7 linked regions of the Homo sapiens genome follow. The protein of the gene in region 5 purifies or fractionates together with the protein of the main gene of each other region. This does not show direct contact. Each region holds a gene or a part of one and is shown on either strand. Other genes may lie near its edges. The genes, in order: HS1BP3, DENR, ACY3, DCPH1, RWDD2B, PLS1 and NRGN.

Evidence for each region.
Region 1: the proteins of RWDD2B (region 5) and HS1BP3 purify together in Homo sapiens (affinity purification with mass spectrometry; 2 studies listed by BioGRID and IntAct, with this or other methods). This does not show direct contact.
Region 2: the proteins of RWDD2B (region 5) and DENR purify together in Homo sapiens (affinity purification with mass spectrometry; 2 studies listed by BioGRID and IntAct, with this or other methods). This does not show direct contact.
Region 3: the proteins of RWDD2B (region 5) and ACY3 purify together in Homo sapiens (affinity purification with mass spectrometry; one large-scale study listed by BioGRID and IntAct). This does not show direct contact.
Region 4: the proteins of RWDD2B (region 5) and DCPH1 purify together in Homo sapiens (affinity purification with mass spectrometry; 3 studies listed by BioGRID and IntAct, with this or other methods). This does not show direct contact.
Region 6: the proteins of RWDD2B (region 5) and PLS1 purify together in Homo sapiens (affinity purification with mass spectrometry; 3 studies listed by BioGRID and IntAct, with this or other methods). This does not show direct contact.
Region 7: the proteins of RWDD2B (region 5) and NRGN purify together in Homo sapiens (affinity purification with mass spectrometry; 2 studies listed by BioGRID and IntAct, with this or other methods). This does not show direct contact.

What each region holds. Positions count from the first base shown.
Region 1 is NC_000002.12:20,644,290-20,648,212, forward strand, and holds part of HS1BP3 (HCLS1-binding protein 3), read right to left. Parts: intron 1,217-3,923; coding exon 1,051-1,216; intron 1-1,050. UniProt on the Homo sapiens protein: May be a modulator of IL-2 signaling.
Region 2 is NC_000012.12:122,759,228-122,763,150, reverse strand, and holds part of DENR (density-regulated protein), read right to left. Parts: intron 965-3,923; coding exon 945-964; intron 307-944; coding exon 222-306; intron 1-221. UniProt on the Homo sapiens protein: Translation regulator forming a complex with MCTS1 to promote translation reinitiation.
Region 3 is NC_000011.10:67,641,972-67,645,232, forward strand, and holds the end of ACY3 (N-acyl-aromatic-L-amino acid amidohydrolase (carboxylate-forming)), read right to left. Parts: intron 3,182-3,261; coding exon 3,074-3,181; intron 2,899-3,073; coding exon 2,789-2,898; intron 969-2,788; coding exon 753-968; 3' UTR 584-752; downstream 1-583. UniProt on the Homo sapiens protein: Plays an important role in deacetylating mercapturic acids in kidney proximal tubules. Also acts on N-acetyl-aromatic amino acids.
Region 4 is NC_000006.12:151,455,352-151,459,274, reverse strand, and holds part of DCPH1 (damage-control phosphatase ARMT1), read right to left. Parts: intron 948-3,923; coding exon 703-947; intron 1-702. UniProt on the Homo sapiens protein: Metal-dependent phosphatase that shows phosphatase activity against several substrates, including fructose-1-phosphate and fructose-6-phosphate.
Region 5 is NC_000021.9:29,016,155-29,020,877, forward strand, and holds the start of RWDD2B (RWD domain-containing protein 2B), read right to left. Parts: upstream 3,196-4,723; 5' UTR 3,124-3,195; coding exon 3,057-3,123; exon of another isoform or gene 2,759-3,056; intron 2,094-2,758; exon of another isoform or gene 1,432-2,093; intron 1-1,431.
Region 6 is NC_000003.12:142,602,764-142,606,686, reverse strand, and holds part of PLS1 (plastin-1), read right to left. Parts: intron 1-3,923. UniProt on the Homo sapiens protein: Actin-bundling protein. In the inner ear, it is required for stereocilia formation. Mediates liquid packing of actin filaments that is necessary for stereocilia to grow to their proper dimensions.
Region 7 is NC_000011.10:124,738,675-124,743,039, forward strand, and holds the start of NRGN (neurogranin), read left to right. Parts: upstream 1-1,267; 5' UTR 1,268-1,410; coding exon 1,411-1,425; intron 1,426-4,365.

The sequences.
Region 1 (3,923 bases), on a different chromosome or scaffold from region 5:
GACTCCTCCTTCTCCCCAAGAGTCCCTGAACCCCTGGCATCCTCAGGATTTCCTCCTCAGCCCTTCTCTCTGCCTTCCACTTCTGTTCTCTGGGCAACTTGATCCACTCCCAGATTTTTAATATCACCTCCAAGTTGATGACTCCCAAGCCTACATCTCAGGCCTGAGCTCGTCCCGAGCTCCAGCCTCATGTATCCATCCACAGGGCAGACACTTCACACTCCACATGCCCCCTAGGTCTGCTCCTCCATCATATTCTTTATTTCAGTTGGTGGAAACAGTCAGCAAATGTGGTGCATGTTACCCAGTAAACATTTTCAACTCTCCCTTTCCCTTCCATACCAAGTGCAACTGGCCTGCTCCAAGCCCTTGATTTGGGAATGACCATATTGGCCATGTATCTGGGCTCCCTGACACCTGTTTTGTTCCTTCCAATCCAACTCCATGCTCTCAGCAGATTGGCTGGTTAAAGGCAAAAGGGTCCACGTCACTCCCCTGCTTAAAACTCTCCTTGGCTGCAGGTTAAGTCCAGGCTCCCGCAGACTCTCCACAATCTGGATCCTGCCTGTCACTCACCTTCATCTTCCCCGCTTCCTCCCAGGACCACACTCAACTGTGCAGAGTTCCCACTCAATGTCCTATTTCCAACCTCCGTGCCTTTGCTTAGGATGTGTTGTCTGCCCGGGACACCCTTCTCACCTCTCCTGCTGAGCCCCATCTGTTCCTCAAAACACAGCTCAGCCACCGCCTCTTCCAAGAAGTTTCCCCAGGGTCAGTTAGGTGCCCCTTCTCTATACCCCCAGAGCCCCCCAGGTGCTCCTGTCCCCATCTGTATCTGTCTCTTTAGAGGTCTGCCTCTCCACGGACTGAGAGCGTCTGATTCACCCTGTGTCCCTTCTGTCTAGCATGGTCTGGTACTCCAGGCCCTGAGCAAGCAACAGACAGAGAAGCACTTGCTCTGGATGCTACTTGAACCCTGGTGGGCAGATGTGTCTGCCCGCCCGGACCCCGGGCACCCTCGAAACATCCTGGCCAGAGCCTCCGGCTCACCAAGAACTGGACGACATCCTCGGGCCTGTGCTTGGCCGACTTGAACGCAGCCAGACGGGTCACCACCAGGATCTGGTACTCCACGTGTCCAGACATCATCTTGCCCCGTACCTCCTGGTGCTGGGGCACAGTCAGGTCGAGGCCAGTGTGGGCATTCTGAAGTCGCCTGCCAGGGGAAAAGAAGGCAGGTGGGGTTCAGGGTCAAGGCAGTAGGCTTCCCGAGCAAAGTGCAGGCAGGGCCTCTGGGTGCCTGGCAGGCCTGGGTGCCAGGTGACTCTGCTGGCTGTCCTCAGTGGTCACTGCTCCAGGCCACCCATCCCGCCACACCAGCCCTCATAAGCCTGGCTTCCCAGGCCTCGAGGCCTCGGACCTGGTCCTGCCTTTGGGTTGCTCAGGGACAAAGGTCTGCTCCCTGCAGGAAAACAGGAAAGGATGGGGCTTGTTGAAAGGGATCGACACAAACTCTGTGCAGAATGGGTGGGAGCAGCATCCTAGGGCCTCTACTCAGACCAAGGAACATGCCTGGGGCTGCAGGGACAGCAAGGGATTGAAATCCCAGCTGGAGACAGGCACCTCTCTTTGGCTAATGGGCAGGAGGGCTGCTACAGGCCCCCTGGGGGGGACACGGGACGAGCACTGGAGGCAGGACCCTTGTGACCCACCGTGGCCCAGAGAGGCACTGATAGGCCCGTCCCTCATCTGGGCAGTCGATGCTGCCCCTCGAGGTGTAGAGAGGATGCATCGGCAAAACATCACCGCTCTTGGAGATTTGTAAAATGCAATTCGAATATAATGAATTGTATGATGAGCAAAGAAGTGATGAGATGTTTTTCTTGAAGTGGAAAAAGTTATTAAATACATCCCTCATCCTACATAAGGTGAGACACAGACCTGTGCAGACTAACATCCCTCACGCAAACACCTCTGGCAGGACACGTGGGGCACCCTCTGAGCAGCTCTGACCATCGAGGTGAGACCTCCTGTGTGCTGGGCAGGACCCTGAAAACACGGGAGGAGCTTCTGGAGCTTAACCTGTGTCTGGGGCAAGGCCCTTCCCTCTCTGGAATTATACCCCAATCCATCAAATCCCCCTGCCCCAGCACTCCTCCCACACGGACCCCTCACATCCCACGCTAGGCCACGCTGTCACCAGCACAACGCTGCTGTCACCAACTGGTGAGGCCTACAGTGATGCGTCTCCTATGCCATGTATGACACCCAATGACTGAGTGCTGTACACACAAGGAATATCCTCCCGCGGCGTAGGGCACCCCAGGCAACCTGCCTTCAGGTGGTGAAAAGTGCAGCAAGGGCCGAATGGGCACTGGGAGGTGCACACGCACAGCCAGCCCTCTGCCAACGGCACCGAGTTCACGCAGTGTGCACGCGCGGCCTGGTGTCACCCACGGTGTCACTGCCACCAGTGTGGAGGAGGAAGGTGAGGCTGGATGCTGAGGGGAGACGCGCTGGGCTCTAGGGATGCACCTGTGTGAAGTCACTTCCGCCTCCTGCAACCCTGCGAAGGAGCTCTGCTACCCAGACCCACTTAAAATACAGGGAAACAGACCCCTAAAGGGAAAGTGCCTGCCCAGGTCTCACCCGGCATGAGGTGGAGCTGCGTTCAATCCCAGGCAGCTGCTCCAGAGCCCAGGTGGCCTCTTATGGGGCAGGCATGAGAAAGAAGCCAGGCATCATTTCTTTAGGATCATGATGAAAACGAGGCACAGGGGGGTGAAAGTGACAAGAAGGGCAGTGCCTGAGCTGCGGGGAGGTCCTCTCAGGGGTGGGAAAGGGATGGAGCAGACCCAGATGGGCACCTCCCACGATCCAGCTCCCTCACAGCACCCCACATCCAATGGTTCTCTGACCACGCCAGAACCCACAATCCATAACCCCACCCCTTTTCCAGGGTCCCATTCCATTGCTGGAATCCCTCTGCCTTAGGCCCAGCTCCCCTGACTTCTTACCCAGAGCTGAGCTGGCCTGGTCAAAGCCCACTTCTCCAGTTCTCTGCTTCCTTCACCCTGTGCCCAAGTGGCTCAACGTGACTGGGGACAGACATGGTGTAAACATGCAGCCTGGTCCCATTGAAATTCATGGCTGCAGACTTGAAGGCACAGCACCACACCAGGCTTGGCAACCCTACCTTGCCCTAGATGTGGGGTTCTCAAAGTGTGGTCCCTGGATCAGGATCAGCATCGCCTGGGAACTTGTAAGAAAGGCATGTTCGGGCCTAGGGTGGCCAGCCATCTTGTTTTCTTAGTAAGCCCTCCGACGAGTCTGATGCACCTGGGCCTACTCCATCACCCTCCCACTTCCCTGAACCCATAGGAAAACTTTCTCTACAGGGTCAGATAGCAAATATTTCAGGCTGTGTAGGGTATCTGGTCTCTGCTGCAGCTGCTACGGAGAGTACATAAACAAATGGGGGTGTGGTGGGCAGGATGTGCCCTAGACCAAGCTTCTCCAACTGTAATGTGCGTGCAACCCCCTGGGGATCCTGTTAATATGCAGATTCTGGTTCTGCAGGCCCCGGGGTGTGCCCTCACCATCTCTAGCAAATTCCCAAGTGATGTGGACACTGCTGTGTACTGCTCCAGAGACCATCGGAGAACATCCTAGGCTTCGCTGTCACATCTGCCCATCAGCCTGCAGCTGCTCCCTGATAGCTGCCCTCTCCTGGGACTGTAGACAAACTGGCTGGCTGCTCCTAAGGCCAACCTTCTACCAGGGCAGCGGCTCCGAGGCCCTCCCACCTACTGAAGGACATAGCTGCTGCAGCTCACCCCTCTTTTTCGCACCATCGATTTTCCTTCCTTACTGGCCCACGCTTATTAGCATGCAACCATGCTCTGACCACTCATGTAACAAAA
Region 2 (3,923 bases), on a different chromosome or scaffold from region 5:
GGATTATAGGTGTGAGCCACTGCGCCCGGCCCATTTACTTTTTTATGTAAGAAAGTTGATATTCAGACCTATCCTATCTCAGAGAGAACTTAAACAGCTAACAGATAAATGTTAATTCTGTAATATCCTACTAAAGGAGGACTTTCCTATCTTTAGAATAATGCCATACATGCATTTGTCTCAGGTACAGAAGTTTAATGCAAGAAAAAAAATGTTCATACCTACAGTAAGTTTTGCAAATTCATTTGGAAAATTCTTCTCTAACCATTGTCTACATTTAGCAACATCAGGCATATATTCACAGTACTAGGAGAAAAAAAAAGAACTGAGTCACAACAAAACATTTTCAGTCAAACAATATGTCGTAATTAAAAATCACCCCCTATACTTGTTAATACAAAGAATAAAACAAACCACTCCCATCTGACTTCTTATCCACAGGAAATCTGTATTCAACCACGATATGTCCCATAAAAAATTAGATATTAAGAAGGATTAGGTACCTCTTCACAGTACCAATTTATTTCTTCTCCCTCTATTTCTTGCTTTGAGCACATAAGTGCCTCATTTTCATGACTTGCTCATAGAGCTGGACTTAGAAAGTCTTACACATAATTTATACTGCCCTTTCTTTCCTCTGCTCATTTGTATAGATTTTGGCATTAAGGTTACTCTTATTTTATTAGCTGACTATTCATAAGTCCCATGCAAAAATCCAAACTGCACAGCCATGTGCAAAAGATGCACATGTATGATTTAAGGTCTAAATTTAGGAAAGAATATATAAGACCAAAAAATTACTCTAAATCAAAGTTCTCTATAAAAGGTTAAAGCTTTACTATCAAATAATCAAAAATGAAAAATAAAAAAAAATTCTCAAGGTAGCTTTAAAACCAAGAATAACTTCAAATACATAAGGTAAAAAAAAAAATTAAAGAACTTACCTCTGTTGGTAATGAACAGACTGAGGAAGTAAAAAGAAAAAAGATTTGAAATGTTAAACCTATATGTACACACATACACAGGGCTTATCCTTACTTTTATATTTGAGAAAATGCTTCATTTTTACATTTTCCCTATAAGTTTTCTATACCACTTTTCAAATGCTACTCTTCAGTGTTTTTGGGGTAAAAGGCACATGGTTATTTGAGATGATACTATCTTGACTTTTTCATCTAAAGAGTGTCTCCATCAGCTGATGGAACATCAAAATATGCTATTTTGTATATAATGAGGTCTTACCATAACCATTTCAGTGGGTCAAAAAATTAAGCTAAGACACGAACAATTTCCCATACATCAGAGTTTGAAGGAAACTGGTTATTTCTTTTCTTTTGAGACACGGTCTCACTCTGTTGCCCAGGCTGGGGTGCAGTGGTGCAATCATGGCTCAATGCAGCCTCCACCCCTCCAGGGGCTCAAATGATCCTCCCACCTCAGTCTCCCAACTAAATGGGACTACAGATGCACACCACCATGCCCAGCTAATTTTTTGTAGAGACAAGGTTTCACCATGTTGCCCAGGCTAGTCTCAAACTTCTGGGCTTAAGCGATCTACCTATCTTAGCTTCCCAAAGTGCTGGGATCACAGGCGTGAAGCACTGTTCCCAGCCTGGTTATTTCTTTTGATGGTTCTACCAAAACAGCCACCACTTTTTATTCATACTGACACATTTATAAACTTTAGCAGCATTTTTACTACCATCTTTTTGCAATATATTTTTCCTTTTTTTTTTTCTGAGACAGAGTCTTGCTCTTTCTGCCAGGCTGGAGTGCAGAGGCACGATCTCGGCTCACTGCAACTTCTGTCTCCTGGGCTCAAGAAATTCTCCTGCCTCAGCCTCCCAAGTAGCTGGGATTACAGGCGTGTGCCACCACGCCCGGCTAATTTTTGTATTTTTAGTAGAGACGGGGTTTCACCATGTTGGCCAGACTGGTCTCAAACTCCTGACCTCAGGTAATCCGTCCGCCTCAGCCTCCCAAAGTGCTGGGATTACAGGCATGAGCCACCGCACCTGGCCTATTTTTTTTAGAGTAAGGGTCTCACTCTCACTCTGTCACTCAGGCTGGAGTGTAGTGGTGTGTCCATGGCTCACTGCAGCCTCGAACTCCTCAGCTCAAGTAATCCTCCCGCTTCAGCCTCCCAAGTAGCTGGGACTATAAGCGTGAGCCACTATGTACAGGTAAGTTTTTTATTTTTGTAGAGACGGGATCTCGCTATGTTGCCAAGGCTTTTTCATGTTATGCTACATAAGATCATGAAAGTGTAAAGCTAGAAGGAATCTTGGTTCAATCCTGTCATTTGGTGTTAGAGCCTGTACAGGCTAATAATGGACTAGAAGAACTGGAAAAGCTTCCAATTTTAACCGTAATTCTAATACTGGGTCAACTGCTTATTTTGTTTTTATTTATTTATTTTTGAGACGGAGTCTTGCTCTTTCACCCAGGCCGGACTGCAGTAGCACTATCTCGGCTCACTGCAAGCTCCGCCTCCCGGGTTCACGCCATTCTCCTGCCTCAGTCTCCAGAGTAGCTGGGACTACAGGTGCCCGCCACCGCGCCCGGCTAATTTTTTGTATTTTTAGTAAAGACGGGGTTTCACAGTATTAGCTAGGATGGTCTCGATCTCCTGACCTTGTGATCCGCCCGCCTCAGCCTCCCAAAGTGCTGGGATTACAGGAGTGAGCCACCGCGCCCGGCCTTTTGTTTTTATGTTTAAGGTTTAGAATGGAGTAGTTCAGTGTGTCCAATATCCTGAGATTTCTCAGGGAGAGGAAGGTGGTATACCATGTAGTCACAGCAATTACTACACACTGGGCACCTAGTATGTGCCAAATGTTTTGCTATGCCTTATATACATTATTATGTTTAGTTATCACAACCTTGTAAGATAAGTACCATATCTATATTCAGATGATGAAACTGAGGCTTAGAGTACATAACCACTTGCATCTGGATAACAGGATTTGAATCTGCCTGTTTCTGACGCTCATGCTATTAACCACTAACTTAGGTTACACAAAGTAAACAAGCAACTTAGTGGCACCTGACAGCTGAAAATGATCTGCCTTCACCTCACCCTACTAACATTCTAACATGCTACCACACAATCACTATTTTACAGATGGGGCACTAAAAGAGTTAAACAGCTCATACAATGACAAAGGTGGTATGTGGCAGAAGAAAACTGGAATCCATTGGTTTTGTCCAGTCTAGTCTATTATAGTTTAGGGTTATTTCCACCAAAGATCTCTCTGGTTAGCTACAGCCCTATATTCCTCACAATTCAAGTTCAAATACTAGGCATAGTTGTTCAGCCACACTTTCAGGATATAACTATACAATTATTGGTTAAACACCATCACAGCAAATACTAAAGCTACAAATTTTGTATACTATTTCAAATAATATTTAGTTCAGAAAAAAAAAAAAATTGGGGTTTTGCTCTGTTGCCCAGGCTGGAGTGCAATGGCACCATCTCAGCTGGCTGCAACCTCTACCTCCTGGGTCCAAGTGATTCTCGTAGCTCAGCCTCCCGAGTAGCTGGGATTACAGGTGTGCACCACCACACCCAGCTAATTTTTGTATTTTTAGTAGAGACAGGGTTTTGCCATGTTGGCCAGGCTGGTCTTGAACTCCTGGCCTCAAGTGATCTGCCTGCCTTGGCCTCAGCCTCCCAAAGTGCTGTGATTACAGGTGTGAGCCACTGTGCCTGGCCCGGTTCAGCAAAATTCTAATGCAATAAAAAAATTGGGGGAGCTCCTTTAAGTTCACCATTATTTGCTTTAAAAAAGTCAATTTCTCTTTACAGATCACTTACTTATTTGGAAAGGGAAAACTGTACCTTTTCAATGCAAACATTTAGCCGTCACCTTCAAACTTAGCATCACTAATAGTGAAACATCTGACATTATGAGCTCTTG
Region 3 (3,261 bases), on a different chromosome or scaffold from region 5:
TGCATGGGGACAGCCTTGTCCTGCTGTGGCCCTTCCCCCAGCCCTGACTCCCTGCTTGAGCCACTATGGGCACCGGGCTCATTACACACTTAAAAATGCACATCTGGCCACATAGAGATCCCCTTAGAACGCCCAAGGAACTGAGGCTCTTGGAAACACGTGTGTGTGGGAAACGCACAGACACGCACGCCAAAGAGCATCCAGGGCAGGCGCCATGCACGGACAAACACACATGTGTGCACAGACATGGGCCTGTCTCTGCGCTCCCCACACTCACTGTCTGGCCCCAGGACTATAGGAGGGTTGGGGGGTCCCCCTCTGGGTTGTAGCCTCCTCTGGAAGCCCCTCCGCTGGATCCAGAGCAATCCTTCTTCAGGTTCTCCTCCCACACTCTGGAATCCTCCCCCAGGCATGGATGGACAGCTGTGGGCACAGAGGCAGCCACCACTGGCCCCAAGACACTTGCAGGTCCAAGGCTGCACTGGCCAGACCTCCCCCAGATCCTGTGGTCAACCTCCCTTCCTCCATCCACTTCCCCAGCCAGAGAGGAGCCGTGCAGGACAGAGGACACAAACCATGGACCTCTGGACATCTTCCATTTTATAGAAAGGGAAATTGAGGCCAGGGGTTGGGGAGGCCTGGCAAGGAACATGGTGCATGGTAGGTGGCAGAAGGGACCTCTGTGCTCAGAGCTGTGCCTCAGGACCCATCGTTCAGATGGGAAGACTGAGGTTGGGGAGGTGTGTCTTGGGTTAGGAAGCTGGGCTCGGGGCAGGGGTCAGCGCGGGCATGGCAGGCACGGTGAATGTGAACTTCTCAGTCTGGACAAAGGCAACGCCCTTCTCATAGTAGGCAGCCTCGTTAATGAACACGGGGTACACCGTGGACTCTCCCTCATAGAGCAGGTCCTCCCCACTGAACATCTGGAAGATGGGAGCACCAGGCTGCAGTGGCTGGAAGTCTCGGTCCTGGGAGGAGAGCCAAAGGCCAAGATTGCTGGGGCCACCTCTGCCCTGGCCCCAGAGGGGGGTGACCCCAGCTTGACACCCAAAAGATGCCCCTCATTCATGGCTTTTCCCACCCATGCTTCACTTCCTTAATCCATATGACAGCAGGTCTGGTGAGATACCAGTCTGCTCTGTGTCTAGAAATGAAGACACAGGTCACCTTGGGGTGGCATGTGCCCATGTGGAAGTGGACCCTCATGGATACGGGCACAGGTATTGAAGCTGGAGTTCAAATTCTTGCTAGCTGTGTAACTGTGAGCAAGTCACTTAACCTCTGTTTCTCAGCTTTCTTGTCTGTAAAATAAGGATTACAATATCTCCTCCTATCATTCTGAAGTTTAGACTAAACAGGTTAATAGTGCTTACAGCAGTGTCTGGCACACGGTAAGTACAATATGATTCTTTATTAAATAAATTTTGGCTGGGCGCAGTGGCTCACGCCTGTAATCCCAGCACTTTGGGAGGCCAAGGCGGGTGGATCATGAGGTCAGGAGTTCAAGACCAGCCTGGCCAACATGGTGAAATTTCATCTCTACTAAAAATACAAAAATTAGCCAGGTGTGGTGGTGAGCGCCTGTAATCCCAGCTATTCGGGAGGCTGAGGCAGGAGAATCGCTTGAACTCAGGAGGCGGAGGTTGCAGTAAGCCAATATTATGCCACTGCACTCCAGCCTGGGCAACAGAGCGAGACTCTGTCTCAAATAAATAAATAAATAAATTTTAAGCCTGGGCACAGTGGCTCATAATCTCAGTGGCCTGTAATCTCAGCACTTTGGGAGGCTGAGGTGGGCAGATCACTTGAGGTCAGGAGTTCGAGACCAGCCTGGCCAACGTGGTGAAACCCTGTCTGTACTAAAAAGACAAAAATTGGCTGGGTGTGGTGGTGAGTGCCTATAATCCCAGCTACTGGGGAGGCTGAGTCAGGAGAATCGCTTGAACCCAGGAGGCAGATGTCACAGTGAGTTGAGATCGCACCACTGCACTCTAGCCTGGGCAATGAAGCAAGATTCTGTCTCAAAAAATAATAATAAAAAATAAAATAAATTTTAAAATTGTAGGAGGAGCCACCCAAATTGACTGTTATGACTGAACGTCTGCAAGGTAGCTGGGCACGGCTGGATTAAGACTGTCTAGCCCTAAACATGGACGGGATGGTGCTGCCTCCATTTGTAAGAAGGTAACTCCTCAAAATGAAACTTCAGGGCACAAAAGGCCACAAGATTGCACCAGACCCTATTCAACAATGACCCCCTGTGGCAGCAAGCAGAGCAGCAGCCAGTACGTTCTTCTCAGGCACCCAAGGGAAAGGTGTGGAAGCAGGATTGCCTAATCCTGGAACATTCAGGAAGGGAAGGCCTGCAGAGAGACATACTGCCAACATGCATGGGGATGCTCGAGGAACCAATTGAAAATCAGAAGAGAGTTTTGTATTTGCACCTCCAAGCAGGTGAATTGAGTCATGCCTGCTCCATGTCCCCTCCCTCTGCCTTTTACAGCCAGGGTAGGGTTGTCTCCATCATGCCCTCCACAGGAGCTATGGGGATCACTGTGGCCTCTTGTGCTAGGCCTGAGTGTGGGGTTCCAGGGAAGGCAGCAGGGCCAGGGGAAGTGGGATGGCGGAGCCCAGCCTCCCATCCTGCTCCTCAACCCGAGATGCTGGTGAGCTCGTGGGAGGCTTGGCTGCACCCCCTGGGGCTCAGTTTTCCTTGACAATCCTCCTCCCCAAGGCTGTGGCCCCAGAAATCACCCCCCACCACACACACACACACACACACACACACCTGCAGCTGAGGATGCACAGTGCCTGCCAGGTGCCCGGCCTCGGTGCGGGGGAAGTCCACGACGCCCACGGGTCTATAGGCTTCCATCTCAAAGGCAGGAAAGGCCGTACCTGTGTGGGAGGCTGGGTGTGTGAGCCCATCCCTCCCTCCAGGCTAGGGGACAGACTGGGCCGTGGGGGTACGTCAGGGCTAGATCCCAGCCTGCCTGTGAGCCTGGCTCCCCAACCCCTGAGCCAGACCTGCTCTTCCCCGGACCTGTTTCCCGAAAGTCCCCTGGGGTCTCACCCTGGTTGAAGAGTTCGATGAAGTCCAGAACTGTGGCCACCAGGGTCCTCATCCTTGAGAAAATGTCAGCCCGCAGCACACCCTGTGGCTGGGGGCCCAGCTCCAGACCTGGGGACCAGGAAGCAAGGGGTTAGGCAGGTGCAGGACCCATATACTCCTTGAAGAGGCCCTGCCCCTTGGTGACTGGA
Region 4 (3,923 bases), on a different chromosome or scaffold from region 5:
TTACTTTGTCCCATCCTTATTTATATAAATGTAACTATTTCAAATTTACATTTTTTACTCAATAAGCAAAACTTCTTTTATTCTAGAAGTCTTTGTTGGAATCTTTAATTAATTCACGCTTTATTTATCTATTTTATTGAGACAGAGTTTCACTCCGGTGCTCAGGCTGCAGTGCAGTGGTGCAATTTTGGCACACTGCAACCTCTGCCTCCCAGGTTCAAGCAATTCCCATTCCTCAGCCTCCCAGGTACCTGGGATTACAGGCCCGTGCCACCATGCCTCGCTAATTTTTTTATTTTTAGTAGAGACGGGTTTCGTTATGCTGGCCAGGCTGGTCTCGAACTCCTGACCTCAAGCAATCTGCCCACCTCAGCCTCCCAAAGTGCTGGGATTACAAGCATGAACCTCAGGGCCTGGCCAATTCGTACTTTAGATATTTACTCTTATGTCTATTCTAGGCAAGTAGATTATAATTGCCAAGAATCTGTTAAATTGGTAACAGCTATAGAAATGTCCATCAGTAACATTTGTAGAAATGTCCATCAGTAACATTTGTAGAAATGTCCAACAATGCTATTAAGATTTGCTAAACTCAACCAAATTCAAGCTTCCACTGGTGCTTATTTTTAAACTTATCCTTTTACAATTTCAGAAAAAGTATAAATTATCTAAACATTTGATAGTTGATGATTACACACGTACCTCTGGATAATTGCTTCATGAATTCTTCGATACATGTAACATTCTACCAACAACCACGGTGAGTAGAACCATCTTGATTTTCCATCACTTTCATTTAAAAGACTCTGTTGATATTCTAGGTACTGATTCCATATATCAGTATCAACAAATTTCTCAACCAAGGGGATAAATGGTTTATCTGTTTGCAATTCATTCCGTAATTTAGAAAGGAGAGAGATAGCTTTCTTTTCAGCTTCCACGCCTTCCTGCAAAAATACAAGAAAAATAAATTGTGTGTGTGTGTGTGTCTGTGCAATTCCTCTAGGGTAACATATTTTTACAGACTTAAGAAGAAAAGAAAAATGTTCAAAACTACATTTTATTTCTTTAAACATTACATTTAGAACTCTTAAACTGAAAATCAAAAAACACACACAGATCTCATATGAACATAATCATGCCTTATCTACCTAAGTTCTGGCCTTTCTGTATCTTCGGTGGGATGACCATTACCACAGAGGGAAAGGAACCCCTGCCAGATTTTCCATGTCTTTCATGCTTCCATACATATTCTTCTTTCACCATTGACACCACTAGAAAAGAAACTGTGGGCTTTCTGAGGTTTCTTTTGGTAGCTCAAATTTTTTTTAACTTGTTTTCCACCAAGTTCTAGCTAGGTGAGAGATGACATATGCTGACAAACAAGGCACTACAATATTATCTCACATAACAGGCCAATTGGAGTGGGGACAAATGTAATGGGATCAGAATGAAGTGAAAATGACTTCACACCTTGGTTTTACATTAGCAAGATTCCTGCTCCATTAAAAAAAAAGAAAATGTAAGCCTAATAAGACACGTATATAATAAAATGTAGAGAATAAACATCAAGCCTGAGTATTTTTATAAGATCATTTTTATCATGTTGATATTTAGTCCCTACTTTCAGATCTGTAATTTTCTCAATATAAACATCTCTCCAATCTTTCTTTTGTTCCAAGTACAATTTATTTTGCTGCTAGAAAAAAAGATTGAAGCTTTCGAGATTCTGCAGGTTCAGAAATAGAAGAAAAGAAGTTGTAGCTGACTGTTTTGAGAGGAACTCCCCCTCCTCCAAATCTCTTCCCTAAAGTCTTAAACTTCAACTCTTTAACTATAAATTCCAACAACTGAGGTTTTACAGGGTGTCAGGCACCCTTTTACAGAAGCATATACCTAAAAAGGCTAATGGATTAATAGTGATGTCACTGCCACTTTGTTCACTTACTTGAATTGAATTCAAACATTTACTGAACCCTGTATGTGCCTGACACTAACCTCAGGGCCAGAGAAAGATGAATAAAGCCTGGTCCTGTCTCCAAGAGACACACATCTGCCAAACCAGGTAGTCTAAGGGCACGGACGTTTGACCGCTGAGGTGGGGGAAGATAGAAAACTGTGTGGCATGGCTCCTTCGGAGATAAGCCTGGCCCTGCTATAGGTGGGGGCTTAGGAAGCTAGAACACATGAGGCCCAAGGAGAGTGGCCATAGGTATAACAGAGGCATGAAAAAGGGACAGAAAGGCTACCAAAAGCAGACTTTATCTGTGTCAATTTACATCTTGTTCTGTGCTCAGTAGAGTGTGAAATGGGGGAGGGCTGGAGAGACAATAAACTCTGCCTTCAGTCACCTGGTGATTACGGGCATACAGGCCAAGTAGCAATATACTAGGACTTCATTAATTACTACATTTTAGATCACTCTGGCCGAAAAAACTGAAATTACAAAAGCATTATGGGGCCAGGCACAGTGGCTCACGCCTGTAATGCCAGCACTTTAGGATGCTGAACTGGGAGAATTGCTGGAATCTAGGAGTTTGAGGCTGCAGTGAGCTATGACTGCACCACTGCACTCTGCCTAGTAGACAGAACAAGACCCTGTCTCAAAAAACAACAACAAGAAAAACAAAAGTATTATGGTAATTTGCTTGCGTATATGACCAAATACTAAAGTGAACTATCCAAATTTGGCTAAATTATACTTGTGTGATAAAGATATGTCAGTTACCAAAATTATGTTTATGTGATAAACATTAAAACCATTCAGCAATATAATTGTCAGTGTCTAAATTAAGCCGGATTTTAGCAACAAGGAACAACAGGTAATCCCTGTGTTATGCCAGGATTAGTTTTAAACAAGACAATATAAAAGAAGTTGAAAGAAGTAGAACATTACACTCAAACTGCATGTGTGTTATCTTGCTCCATTTCAATTTGGCCAAGGAGAAAAGATCACCAACCATTTCTCTAAATTTTTGTTTTCAACTCTCAAAAAAAATGTACTGGTATATGTATGCTCTTTTACAGTCTATTGTGTAATAGAAAGATTACTGAACCTACAAGTTTAAAGACCTATGTCTAACATAACATGTGGGGAAAAGCAAGAGAGATCAGATTGTTACTGTGTCTGTGTAGAAAGAAGTAGACATAGGAGACTCCATTTTGTTCTGTACTAAGAAAAATTCTTCTGCCTTGAGATTCTGTTAATCTATAACCTTACCCCCAACCCCGTGCTCTCTGAAACATGTGCTGTGTCAACTCGGAGTTAAATGGATTAAGGGCGGTGCAAGATGTGCTTTGTTAAACAGATGCTTGAAGGCAGCATACTCCTTGAGAGTCATCACCACTCCCTAATCTCAAGTACCCAGGGGCACAAAAACTGCGGAAGGCCGGAAGGCCGCAGGGACCTCTGCCTAGGAAAGCCAGGTATTGTCCAAGGTTTCTCCCCATGTGATAGTCTGAAATATGGCCTCGTGGGAAGGGAAAGACCTGACCGTCCCCCAGCCCGACACCCGTAAAGGGTCTGTGCTGAGGAGGATTAGTGTAAGAGGAAGGCATGCCTCTTGCAGTTGAGACAAGAGGAAGGCATCTGTCTCCTGCCCGTCCCTGGGCAATGGAATGTCTCGGTATAAAACCCAATTGTATGTTCCATCTACTGAGATAGGGAAAAACCGCCTTAGGGCTGGAGGTGGGACATGCGGGCAGCAATACTGCTTTGTAAAGCATTGAGATGTTTATGTGTATGCATATCTAAAAGCACAGCACTTAATCCTTTACATTGTCTATGATGCAAAGACCTTTGTTCACGTGTTTGTCTGCTGACCCTCTCCCCACAATTGTCTTGTGACCCTGACACATCCCTCTCTCGGAGAAACACCCACGAATGATCAATAAATACTAAGGGAACTCAGAGGCTGGCGGGA
Region 5 (4,723 bases):
TGTCTATTCATGTTTAATTTGAAGTTTTCCTCTTCTAATAACTGTTGGAACTGCAAATATTCCTCCCTCCTTTAATCGCAATGTTTTCTTTTGTTTTTTTTCCGATTTTTTATTTATTTATTTTTTTGAGACGGAGTTTCGCTCTTGTTGCCCAGGCTGGAGTGAAATGGTGCAATCTCGGCTCACTGCAATCTCCACCTCCCAGGTTCAAGCGATTCTCCTGCCTCAGCCTCCCAAGTAGCTAGGATTACAGGCATGCGCCACCACACCCAGCTAATTTTTTGTATTTAGTAGAGATGGAGTTACACCATGTCAGTTGGGCTAGTCTCAAACTCCCGACCTCAGGTGATTCACCCGCCTTGGCCTCCCAGAGTGCTGGGATTACAGGCATGAGCCACTGCTCCCGGCCTTTTTTTTTTTAAACAAAATCCTCATACATACTTAAAATCCCTGGACTTATTGGAATTCCATATACATATTTGCTGGTCTGTTTTGGAGTTGAGAAACATAAAAAACAACTACTTGGGTGGTTATTAGAGGAAATGGTTTACTTTGTTTTTTTGTTGGCGTGGCTCTGTTACCAGTGTTTTTGGATTCTATTACCAGATTGCCAAGGTGCGACTCCTGGCTCTGCCACTTACCAACTGCAGGACCTTAGGCAAGTGGCTTAATTTATCTGTGCTTTAGTCTCCCCAACTCCATAACTGGGATGAGAGGGTTGCTGTGATGATTAGATGAGAATTTGTGGAAAGTGCCTGGCAACAGTAAATTTTATATGCGTGCTTGCTACTATTATTATTAATTAAAAAAACCTTTTTTTTTGAGACAGGGTCTAGCTCTGTCACCCAGGCCAGAGTGCAGAGTCGGCTCACTACAACCTCTGCTTTCTGGGTTTTTTAGTAGAGACGGGGTTTCACCACGTTGGCCAGGCTGGTCTCGAACTCCTGCCGTCATGATCCACCCGCCCTGGGCTCCCAAAGTGCTGGGATTACAGGCATGAGCCACCGTGTCCGGCTGCTTATTACTATTATTATTATTGGTCATCATTTCAACAAATGTTTCTCAAGCACTTACGTTCAAGCACTGGCACTAAGATAACAATGAATGAAAGTAATAAAACAACTCTACTGGTGGGAGGATACCATGACATCAAAAACAAATTTATACGCCCAGCCCAGGTGCGGTGGTGGCTCACGCCTGTAATCCCAGCACTTTGGGAGGATGAGGTGGGCGGATCACCTAAGGTCAGGAGTTTGAGACCAGCCTGGCCAACATGATGAAACCCCATCTCTACTAAAAATACAAAAATTAGCCAGGTGTGGTCGCCCACGCCTGTAGTCCCAGCTACTAGGGAGGCTGAGGCAGGAGAATCGCTTGAACTGGGGAGGCGGAGGTTGCAGTGAGCTAAGATCATACCTCTGCACTCCAGCCAGAGCAACAGAGCAAGACTGTCTCAAAAAAAAACAAAAAAGAATTTTTGTACCCAGTGAATAACTGCTATGAAGAAACCTGAAAAAGAAAACAAGGATAAGGGAAACAATGAGGCAGCAGGGGTGAGACTGCACACAGCATTGTCAGGAAAGGCCTTTCTCCTAAGGTGACTGTAGGGAAGAGACTTTAAGGAACTGAAAAAGGAGGCCATGTGTTTTTCTTGGCCAAGAGTGTTCAAGGGAAAGCGAACAGCATATTCAAAGGCCTTGAGGAAGGAGGGTGCTAGAACAGCTGGCCAGAGCACAGTGAGCTGAGGACACGGGGAATAGAAGAGTTTAGTAAGGAAATGTGGGGCAGTTTATGTTGGGACTAGTAAAGCATGGCCAGAATTTTGAATTTTATCCCGACTGACATGTAAGAGCTACAAGAGAGGTTTGACTTATGAAGATCCCCACACTTGCTGCTATGGAGAAAAGTGAAAGGAAAAGTGGGGTGACCAGATATAGACACCGCAATAACTAGGGAGAGATGATGGTGGCTTTGATAGGATTATAGTGGTCAAGTTGGTGAGCTTCAGGTTCTGGATACATGCAGAGAACAGAGGCAACAGGATTTACAGATGAATTACATGAGACACGGAAGAATGACTCCGGGGCTTTAAGGTACTGAAAGTATGGATCTGCCATTTATTTAGACGTTGATGGTCATGGGGAGCTGAAGCTTGGTTTTAGACACAAGTAATGAAGTGCCTACTAAGACACCTGTTAAATAGAGAGGTCTAGCAGGCAGTTAGATGTATAGTTTTGAAGTCTACGAGAGACTCAGCTAGATATATAATCTTGGGAGTCAACACTTATTTGGAACTATATATTTGTTTAAAGTCTCCCAGGGAGTGAGTAAAGTTGGGAGAGGGTGCTATTGAATTGGAGGTATCGAAGATGAAATGGGATTAGCAAAGAAGAACGGGACGGAGGGACTCTTGAACGGACAACTACGGGAGTGATGTCACAGGTCATTTATCTGCCAAATTATTTTCGCTTAAGAGATTTCAGTCCTTCCAAAAAACCCTCAAGATAATTTTATGATTCAAGATTTCAGCGAATGCTGTAAGATAATAGACTGTGGCCGGGCGCGATTGCTCACGCCTGTAATCCCAGCACTTTGGGAGGCAGAGGAAGGGGGACTGCTTGAGCCCAGGAGTTCAAGATCAGCCTGGGTAACATAGTAAGAGCTCGCCTTTATTATTTTTTTAAAAAATAAAATATATTTAAGAGAACGCAGACTGAAACTTGAGATTTCTGAGTGGAATAATATCTTTTCCTTGCAGATTTTTTTTTGAAGAACAGAGCAGGGTACCCCGCGACCCAAGCCAAGACGCTCTCAGGAAGAAAGCCCAGCACGCAGCCGCCCTCGCACCCTGATTGCCCCCGGGGCGAGGTCCCCGGCTGGAGCAGGGCTGCAGAAGCCGGGAAGCAACGCCGAGGACCGAGCCGACCGATGGGCGCATGCAGTGAGGGGAACCGGGGCCGCCATGCCGGGCACGTTCCCAAAGGGTTGCACTGGGCGCTGCAGCGTGGGAAACCCCCGTGGCGGTCACCACTGGCGCTAGCTGAGGCGAGACTCACCTTGAGCCGTGGCCCCCTCACTGCTGTAACCCGGGTTCCATGGCTGCATGGACAGCTCAATTTTCATCAGAAGGGAGCCTCAAAATTCTAGCATACTGCGACCCAAAACTTACAAACCGCCTCAGCTGGCGACCTACCGGAAAAAAAAAAAAAAAGCATGCGGCGCATGCGCGTCCAAGGCCGCGGACCGGAAGCTGGGGCTCGCCTGTTGGGAGCCGCGTCCGCCGGTGTTGGTGTCTGCACTTGGAAGGACGTAGGGAATGCGTTGTCCCTGCTAGGTACTTTTCAGTCGCAGAGTTCTCTTCTTCTTCTTTCTTTCTTCCTTTTTTTTTTTTTTGAGACGGAGTCTCGCTGTGTCTCTCAAGCTGGAGTGCAGTGGCGCGATCTCGGCTCACTGCAGCCTCCGCCTCCTGGGTTCAAGCGATTCTCCTGCCTCAGCCTCCCGAGTAGCTGGGATTACAGGCGCCCACCACCATGCCCAGATAATTTTTGTATTTTTCAGTAGAAATGGGGTTTCACCATGTTGGCCAGGCTGGTCTCGAACTCCTGACCTCAGGTGATCCACCGGCCTCGGCCTCCCACAGTGCTGGGATTACAGGCCTGAGCCACCGTGCCCGGCCGGAGTTTTTCTACTTAATACCTCTCCATGCCAACCCCGTTGTCATTTCCCAGCGGCCGCCTCTATAACGGGCACTTTTCAGGGACAAAGAATTGGTCCGTTAATGTTCCTCAAATTCGAACGCGCCTAGGAATAGTTCGGGGATCCTGTTGAAGTGCAGATCAGGATTCCGTAGGTAGGGGTGGGGTTCCAAATTCTACATTTCTAGTATCTTCCCACACGATGGTGATCCTCCTTGTCCCTGAATCATGGAGGAGGGCAATTAGGGAGATGTGAGCCTGGATGCATGGTGGCCTTGGCTATCTTAGGTGTTCTTGCCCATTAACCAAGCTGGGAGGAACCGTGTGAATGCATATCTATCCCTGTTAATAAAAGGGTAGTTTGAAGGAGATGCTGACAGGAGAATAATTAGAAATGTTTTTCTTCCCAATCCAACTATATGCAATACACTTTATAATATTCATTTTAGAAATGTCATAGATAAGATTTGTAAACATTGACATTTAGCAATACTAAATATCACTGCTAGGTCTCCCCTCCACTTTTTTTTTTTAAACAAAAATACGACAGTATGTATTGTAGGTCTTCATAAACTACGTCTTCTGCATAGTGTTTCATGAGCGTTTTTCAATGTCATAATTTATTTTTTCCTCCAACATTTATTATGAAAAAATTCAAGTGTAAAGCGAAGTCGAGAGAATTTTACAGTGGAGCAGACCTCAAGAGAAGGGGAAGGATGGATTTCCCCTCTATTTAGCAGTGTCTGAAGACATTTTGGGTTGTCACAACTGGAAGGATGGTATTGGCATGGGGTAGGTAGAGCACAGGGATGTTCCTCAACTTCCTACAATGAACAGGACATCCCCCGACAACAACAAATTTGCTGGTCCAAAATGTTGATAGTGTTGAGGTTGAAAAACACTGACCTGGAGAGTACAGAATTTTACTCTACCAGCTTTGTCACATACCTCATCAATCTATCTGTTTTCATACATTTAAAAGTAAACTGCAGACAGTACGCTTCTAAGTACCTCTAATGCACATCATT
Region 6 (3,923 bases), on a different chromosome or scaffold from region 5:
CCATTTATTTGAAATTTCAAGAATAGGCAAATATATAGACAGAAAGTAGATTTGGCATTGCCTAGGGTAGGGGCAGCTGGGGAGGAGGTAGTAGAAAATGAGGAAAGTGCTAATGAATACAGGGTAATTAAAATATTGTAAAACTGACTATACAGTTTAAATTGGAGAATTGTATGATATTAAGGAAAGTCTGAGAAACTGTCACAGCCAAGAGTAATAAAACTGTTATTTTAAAAACAATGTCATGTGTGCCAAGAATACTGATGAAACATCATTTAATCCTATTCAAAGTGAAGATTTTGACAACGTGTGGTTGATATGAAACCTTTAATTTCTCTGAGAAGTCCCGCTGCTTGCTTTAGTAATACCCTTAATGCCTCAGGACATAACATACTCAAAAAAAAACTGTGCATAAAGAAGTTCTAAATGAATCTTGGTATCCTTTCTAGATTAAATGAGCAACATGCACATCACAAGGTCTTCCTTAAGTGTGCCTGAGATGTGAAATAGCATGCAGACTATTCCCACTGATATTTAATAATACATTAACATGCAAAAATGGGTATCATTGTGTACCCTTTTGTACAATGTTTCAGGATTCAGTTATTTCCTCTGAATTACTAGAAAATTACAATGTTTTGGGTTCTCCCATTATTTATTGTCCTAGTGGTATGAGAAATGCTTATAGTAACCTTGCAGAAATACTTCAATTAAGGCTTAGTCTCCCACAGAACAATATATATCACATAGGGAGAATATAACTTTGTAAAATATTTAGAAAGTTTAATCTTTTATCCTACACATTCCAGATGTACATTAGCAGGAAGTATAAGTTTTAAAACAAAACTACTTTGTTCAAGATGAAAGAGATGGATATTTTCCCATGTTAATCAACTCTTATTTCAAGAACTCATTTTAATGTTAATATGCTCCATAGTTGAGGGTTAGCCATAAAATACATTTAGACTTTTATAAAAATTGCACATAAATTTCATAGAGGAATTATTTCATATGGTCAGTAACAGAAGAAAATATGAATTGACTGCAAGAGCACTAGATTTGGAGCTAGACTGAAGTCCCATGAGGTCAGGAGTTCGAGATCAGCCTGGACAACATGGAGAAACCATGTCTCTACTAGAAATACAAAAATTAGCTGGGCATGGTGGCACATGCCTGTAACCCCAGCTACTGGGGAGGATGAAGCAGGAGAATCACTTGAACCCGGGAGGCGAAAGGTTGCAGTGAGCCAAGATTGTGCCCCTCACTCCAGCCTGAGCAACGGAGCAAGACTCTGTCTCAAAAAAATTAACCCTGACATTTTTTCAAATGTTGAAATTATAAGACACAGTTATGAGTTTAATTTCTGGCAGTTTCAAATCAGGCAACCTCCAGCAGGCAAGTCATTCTCTAAGTCTTGGCCACTTATCAGTGAAAGGAAGTAAAATCAGAAAGCTTTTTTAAACATCAATAAATGCCTTTCCTCTATCTTGTAGTTGACTAGTTACTTTCACATCCACTATCTTGTTTAATTATCAAACCTACAGCTGAAGAGAAGGCCTTCCTTCTCATGGGGTCAGAAACAGAATCACAGACTTTGACTTCTCATCCATGGTTCTGATCATAGGCCAACTGGTTTCAGGTATCTAAACTTTAAATTGCCCTAAGACTCATTTTAATTGACCACTAAACATTCAGAGATTTTCAGATTTCCTTTTTCCACTGATAATAATCTTGAATTTTTTTTTTTTTTTGAGACGGAGTCTTGCTCTGCTGCCCAGGCTGGAGATGCAGTGCCGTGATCTCAGCTCACTGCAAGCTCTGCCTCCCGGGTTCACGCCATTCTCCTGCCTCAGTCTCCTGAGTAGCTGGGACTACAGGCACCCACCACCACGCCTGGCTAATTATTTGTATTTTTTAGTAGAGACGGGGTTTCACCATGTTAGCCAGGATGGTCTCAATATCCTGACCTCGTGATCCGCCTGCCTCGGCCTCCCAAAGTGCTGGGATTACAGGCGTGAGCCACTGCACCTGGCCAATAATCTTGAATTTAATTTGGCTATTTGAGGATAAGAAAGGGATCAAGCAAATTGCTATTATTGTTGTTTTTCCAAAATCAACTCACTTCCATGACAACTTCTGATGAAAAACATTGGGTTTTGGTGAGCTGTGTTTCACAGATGGCACCTCACTGACCTGATTAACACTTAAAATTCCAATAACTAGGTCACTCTTAGAAACATTTCCTTGACCAAAAGGATGTCCCAATGATCTTAAACCTGGGGAGAGGGGAAGGAAAAGGGAGACCGCCAGGAAAGAATTCAGAGTGCTCTCCAGGAAGAGACAGCAGGAGTCTTTGAGAGGTTTTGGTTTATTTACAAAGATTATAAATACTAACTTGATATCAACCTAGAGATTCTACTTGTCTAAACCTTTCCCCCTCTTTTATTCATTCCAAGCAGCCCTTGGTCCAAGGTGTAATTAACAAGACCGATCCTTCCACACACATTTACCAGTGTCTTAAATTCAAATCCAAATTCTATTTTGGCAGTACTGCTAAAATCTCTTATTTCTTAGTTCTCAAAAAAATTGAAGGAGCTTTTGTCATTTTTTTAATATAAACATCTTCTTTCTTGAAACTGGATCTATAAACAATTTAATGTATTGTGTTCCTCAATAATAGAGTAAATCTGATTTCTGCTAATATTTTGGGTCAGTGACACCCCAAAACCTTTTGCTTTTTATCATGAAGAAGCCCCTCAGACACCTTCTACCTTACTAATGTCTCCATCCAATTTACTATCAAGAAAAGACAGTTTCTCCTTTTTTTTTGTGGTCAGCTTGGATCTTTTGAAGGAGGCATGTCTGTGTGCAGTGAGTTATCACCCAGATGTTCTTGTAGGTATTTTTTTTTTTTTTTGAGGCAGGGTTTCACTTTGTCACCCAGGCTAAAGTGCAGTGGCACAATCTCAGGTCACTGCAGCCTCAATCTCCTGGGCTCAAAATGATCCTCCCACCTCAGCCTAAGTAACTGGGACTACAGGCACGCGCCACCATGCCCAGATAATTTTTTTGTAGAGACGATGTTTTGCCATGTTGCCCAGGCTGGTGTTGAACTCTTGAGCTCAAGCGATCCACCTGCCTCAGCCTCCCAAAGTGCTGGGATTATAGGCGTGAGCCACCATGCCCAGCCAGTCTCGTAGTTTTATAGCTGTGAATTGCTCACAAAAGTCAATCATAAAATTTAGTTTATCGTAAAGTCTGAAGTCCCTTCACCACTGGACTTTATGAACAAAGCTATGTCTAACTCTGCTAGGAAATATTTTCTGATGAAACAAGTGTTTTAAGTAAGAAAAAACTCTCCCAATCATCTAACTCCTCACCCTTTCTGTGCCCACAATATTACTATAATAAAAAGCAACGTGCCTTTACAGAAGCCATGCTACATATGTCTCACCAAAAACGGCACATAGGCACTTTCAGACACAGTGCTAAAAAGAAATCAGATGATCAAAGTTGAACAGCCTCACATCTCATGTGACCTTACATGTCAGCAAAGTTTCCAGCAATCAAAATTGTATAACCATTTTATAACCAATAAACCCGTATGCAGCACAAATGTCTCTTTCTCCCCGACGTTCATCATCAGCCAGAGTAAAATGTTAATTCGGAACTGGATGAAGTGACAAGCTTTTGAATGTTGAGAGAATGAGGGCCAGAGGTGGCCTCAGCCTCAACACTTTGGGAGGCTGAGGCGGGCGAGTCACTTGAGGTCAGGAGTTGGCGACCAGCCTGGCCAACATGGTGAAACCCCGACTCTACTAAAAATACAAAAATTAGCCCGGTGAAGCCAGAAGCTGCGGCCCTGCCTTTCATATCCTGGGAACACAGAACCACTCAGGGGAAGGTAAAGCAGAACCAGGAAA
Region 7 (4,365 bases), on a different chromosome or scaffold from region 5:
CTCAGGATCTGCTGTCCCAACCAGAGCCACAGGGCATTTCCCACCTTTGCTCCCAGCAGGAGCCATCCTTTCCTCCTTCCCTTCTCTGGGACCTTAGCTGAGAAGACTTTCTAGTTTTCTCAGAGAAGGCCTACCCTACCCACATAACAAGCCACACTGCCAGCTTTTGTACCCTGCCGAGTTGGGGGAGGCTGACGACCACAACAGTGGCAGTCTGTCCCTCCCAGATGCTCTTTCCATAGCTCCCCTTCCCAGCCTCTCACGAAGCCCACATCCTGCCTCATCATGGACCCAAGAGCCAATTACTTCGAATTCTCTACACTTGGGTTTAGGGTATTTTTCTTCTTCTCAGGAGCAAGGGCGAGGATGGCCAGCTTTTGTCTTATTCTGAGGCAGCAGATCAAAAGGTTAGGCAGAGTCTGGTATGAAAGGGAGGAGGATACTTCTTCCAAGTCTGTGCCCATATATAAATACATACAAAATAGGTGTTGTGCATATATGATGTTGTTTGTTGCAGCTCATGTAGACAGATCGATAATAGATACGTCATGCCGACAGCTTGAGTTGGGTGACTGTCCGTGTGCGTGCGTGAGCGCGCGGGCGCCCGCAACAGGGTGTCCGCATTTACCTGCAACTGAAGGGCTGCGTAGTTATTTTTGCAGGTTGTATCTGCAGTGTCTGTATGCTGGAAGAAGGCCTGGGAAAATCATATGTGGACATGTGGGGCTTGTGAGCTTTTGTGTGGACGCATGCCCATCGCCAGGTTGTACCAACAGGTTTCTCCGTCTGTAGCAGGAGTGATGATGAGACCTTTTTACCGCCCGTTAGGGAGCCTTTCTTTGCGGACTGAGGGGGAGTGAAGTGAAAGGGAGCCATATTTGGGACTCCTGCTAGGTTGTGGAAGTATGGAGGGATGGGTGAGGGGTGCGTGGTTTTCTCTGAGCGGGAGTAGGTGCTGTGCCCAGATGTGGGTGTTTGTGCTCGGGGTGTCGGGGGCCTCCTTCTGCCTACTCCGGCGTACATCTGCCTGGCAGTCTGCCGCCTAGCAAGCCAGGGGATTGCGCCCGGGAGGATGGAGTGTGTAGGAGGCTTGGATACAAGCGTGTAGGCGGAGGGGCTGGGGCAGGAGCGGGAGCGCGGCGCAGAGAGCCGCGAGAGGGCGTGGCCCTCCCTCCACTTCTCCCCGCCCACCCTGCCGGAGGCTGCTCCTGATTGGCTTCCCGGCCGCGGGGCTCAGGTTACATTCGCGAGCGGAGCCGAGCGCGGGAGACCGGACCCGAGAGCAGAGCTGCTGTTTCGGCGCGGGTCGGCTGGCGGCCGACTGCCCCAGAGCCCCCACCCGGCACCACACAGACCCCACCCCCGCCCTGCGCCAGCCTTCGTCCCCGCAGAGGACCCCCCGACACCAGCATGGACTGCTGCACCGTAAGTTAGAGGGCCCGGGGGAGGGGCACTTGGCGGGGTCCGCTGCGAGAGGCGCCTGAGAAAGCCCTGGAGGGCGAGAGAGGGATGGAAGTGGATGCGGAAGACCTAGGAGCAGAAAGAAAAGGGGTCCTTGCCGAGACGTGGGTGGTGGATGGTGGAAGGCGCCCGCCCGACTTGGAAGCCCTAGGAAAAATGCTCCTCAACTCGCGGGGGCGTCTGAGCGCCCATCCGTTAGACAGCCTAGGCTGGACTGGGAGCTCGGCAGGGCTCTGCAAGAGGGGAACTGCGGGTTGGATGACAGGAGGAACTTCCTCCCCAGTGAGACGCTGGCAACCATCGCCTGGAGACACTGCAGCGACTCCTTCCTCCCGTCTTTCGGCCCCCACCCCGTTCCCCATCCCACTGCGCCGCCGTCGGTGGGCGGACAGGCTGATCCTCATGACCCTCCAACGATCGCCTAAGCGCCCTGTGCAGCGCAGGCTGGTCCATATTGGTTAGCTCGGTAGTGATGCTGGCTGCAAAGAGCCTAGTCAGGGTGGTTCTGGGGAGGGGTTGTCCCGGCCCCCAAGGCCTTCTCGCTCGGAAGGGGCTGGGTGAAGTGACCGCGAGAGAGCCCTGCTGGCGAGGAAAGGAAGTGTCTGCAATTTGTCAGCGCCCACGCGGAAACCTGGGTACTGCAAGTGCCCAGCGCCCGAGGGGTTTGCTGTAAAGGTGACTCGGTATGAAAGCGCCTGGCATAGGCCCTGGCTCCTGCCTCACTGGAAGAGTACAGTGATCATACGTATATGAAATTTATTTGTTTGCTTATTTATTTTTTGCCTCTGCACTTGGAGAAAGACTATTCCAAAGTCCTTGTATTTTCAGTCATTCAGTCAACCAGCTAATGATACACGAGGTTACTGACTTTGCCACCTTATGGCATAGTAAAGAAAAAAAAAGTGGGCTTTGGAAGGGAAGGATAGCCCAGTTCTATAATAGGTGAGACTTTCCCATGTCTGGGTACCAAGAGGCAGAGAACACTTAGGGGCAAGTGGTGGTGGTTGCGATTTTAACTCTTATTAGTTTAAGTAATAGTTGCCAGTTTGTGAATGCCTGCCCTGTAGCCAGCACTTTATATTTAATCATAGCAACAACCCTGTGAAGTAGGTATTATTTCACAGATGTGCCAACTGAGGTTTAGAAAGTTAGATTTTTCCAAGGAAGCATGACTCCTAACTGTGGAGGCAGGATTCAAACATAGCCCTGTCTTCTTCGAAGAGCTGTGGTTTAACCTCTCCTCTAAATATTTACTGATTATAAAAGTAATCTGCTCATAATAGAAAACGTAAAACCTAGAGAAAAGTATGAAAAACAAACATGTCAGTCACCTACAGTCCCACCCCCTGGAGAACACCCCGATAACATATCTCCTTCCAGCCTTTTCCCTCTGCTTGTTATTCTACAGGAAGCAATTTTTTGGTTGTGAAGGGAGAAATGGGCTCCTCATGGAGGTTCCTGGGCTCCACTGAGGAAGAGCCCTTCCTCCCAGCAGTGTTGTATAAAGTAGAGAAGATAAATGGATGGTGGGTTCTGGGAAATGAGCTGGGGGGAGGGGAGAGGTGAGGATGACAGGGGAGTATTGCTGGGGAAGGGGAAGTGGGAGACGTGGTCACTGGAAAGAGGTGAGTAAACAAAGAATCCAAGAGGCCAGGGAAGGAATGGAATTGGTCTCCTCTGTGTCTGCAGTAGTAATTAGAGTAGGATGTGGGGGTCCCTGCCTGGAACTGTTGCTCTTGAGTGCCCAGGGAGCCATACTGAGGGATTAGTAGACATGGTTGAAGTCAGTGTCCCTTAAAAAAGGAGAGGCTACCCACCCAAAAGGTAAAAGAGAAGCAGATACACAATTATCTCCATGGCCCAGGGCCTGGGGCACCTCCTCCAGTGCACCCTGTGCACAGGAGCCTTCCCAAGTCATGCCCTGTCCTAGGTCTGCAGGGCTAAAGGGCTGAGCAAGAGAGAGCACCATTATCAGACTGTGCAGGAGGGCAGGAAGAAGAAGGAGTGATGTGTGGAGGGTTGGGGAAGGGCAGGGCTAGGGGTGGGCATTTTCCTCCCCTTTCTGTGGAGGGCTGGACTCAGTGCTGGGAGAGAGCTGAGATGTGTGGGAAGAACAGCATACCTCTTGGGGGCTAGAGGCAGGTCCTTCTTCATCTTTTGATTCTGGAGCTCTCCTCACTGACCGCATCACCTGGTGTTTGGGAAGAATCTAGTCCTGTCTTATTCCCGTTTCTCCTTGGTACAGAGGCTCAGATAGAAATGAGGAAGAAGAAAACAGATCTGCCTATTTTTTTAAGAGACAGAGGAATGGTTTTTTATTCATGCTGATTCAAATATTGCAGTTGCTGATTTACATAGCCATATATATATATGACTTTTCCTGCATTCACCGCGCATGAAAAAGCGCATGAATTTTTTTGGATCCTCATTTCTTTTGCTTAGTCTAGTTGGCTTGGCCCTGCTGAATTCATAGAAATAATTACCTGCCCTGAGGCAGTGGCTAGCAGCAGAGGCTACTGAATCCCATCACTTCACTATTTGTCAACTGAGTGACCTTAGCTAAGTTACAAAATGTCTCAGAGGCTGTTTCCTGACTTCCAAAATGGGGATTAAATGAGGTAATATATGCAAAGCGCTTAGCACAGGGCCTGACATAATAACAAGCAGCAAGCAGGGGATATCCTTAAAGCTATTCGGATTTGGGAGCTGAAGGAGACTTTGTTCATTAGTTGTGGCTGAAGAAAATGAGACTCTCAGAGATGAAGTGATGTGCCCAGTTGGGACTAGAAGGCTTGGACCCCACTTTGCTGACCAGGGCACCTTCCACCTCCTCCTCCCTCCCAGAAGTCCCTACTTCCTATGGAACTGTCAGGCACACACCAGCAACCTTGGCTTTGGAAAGCA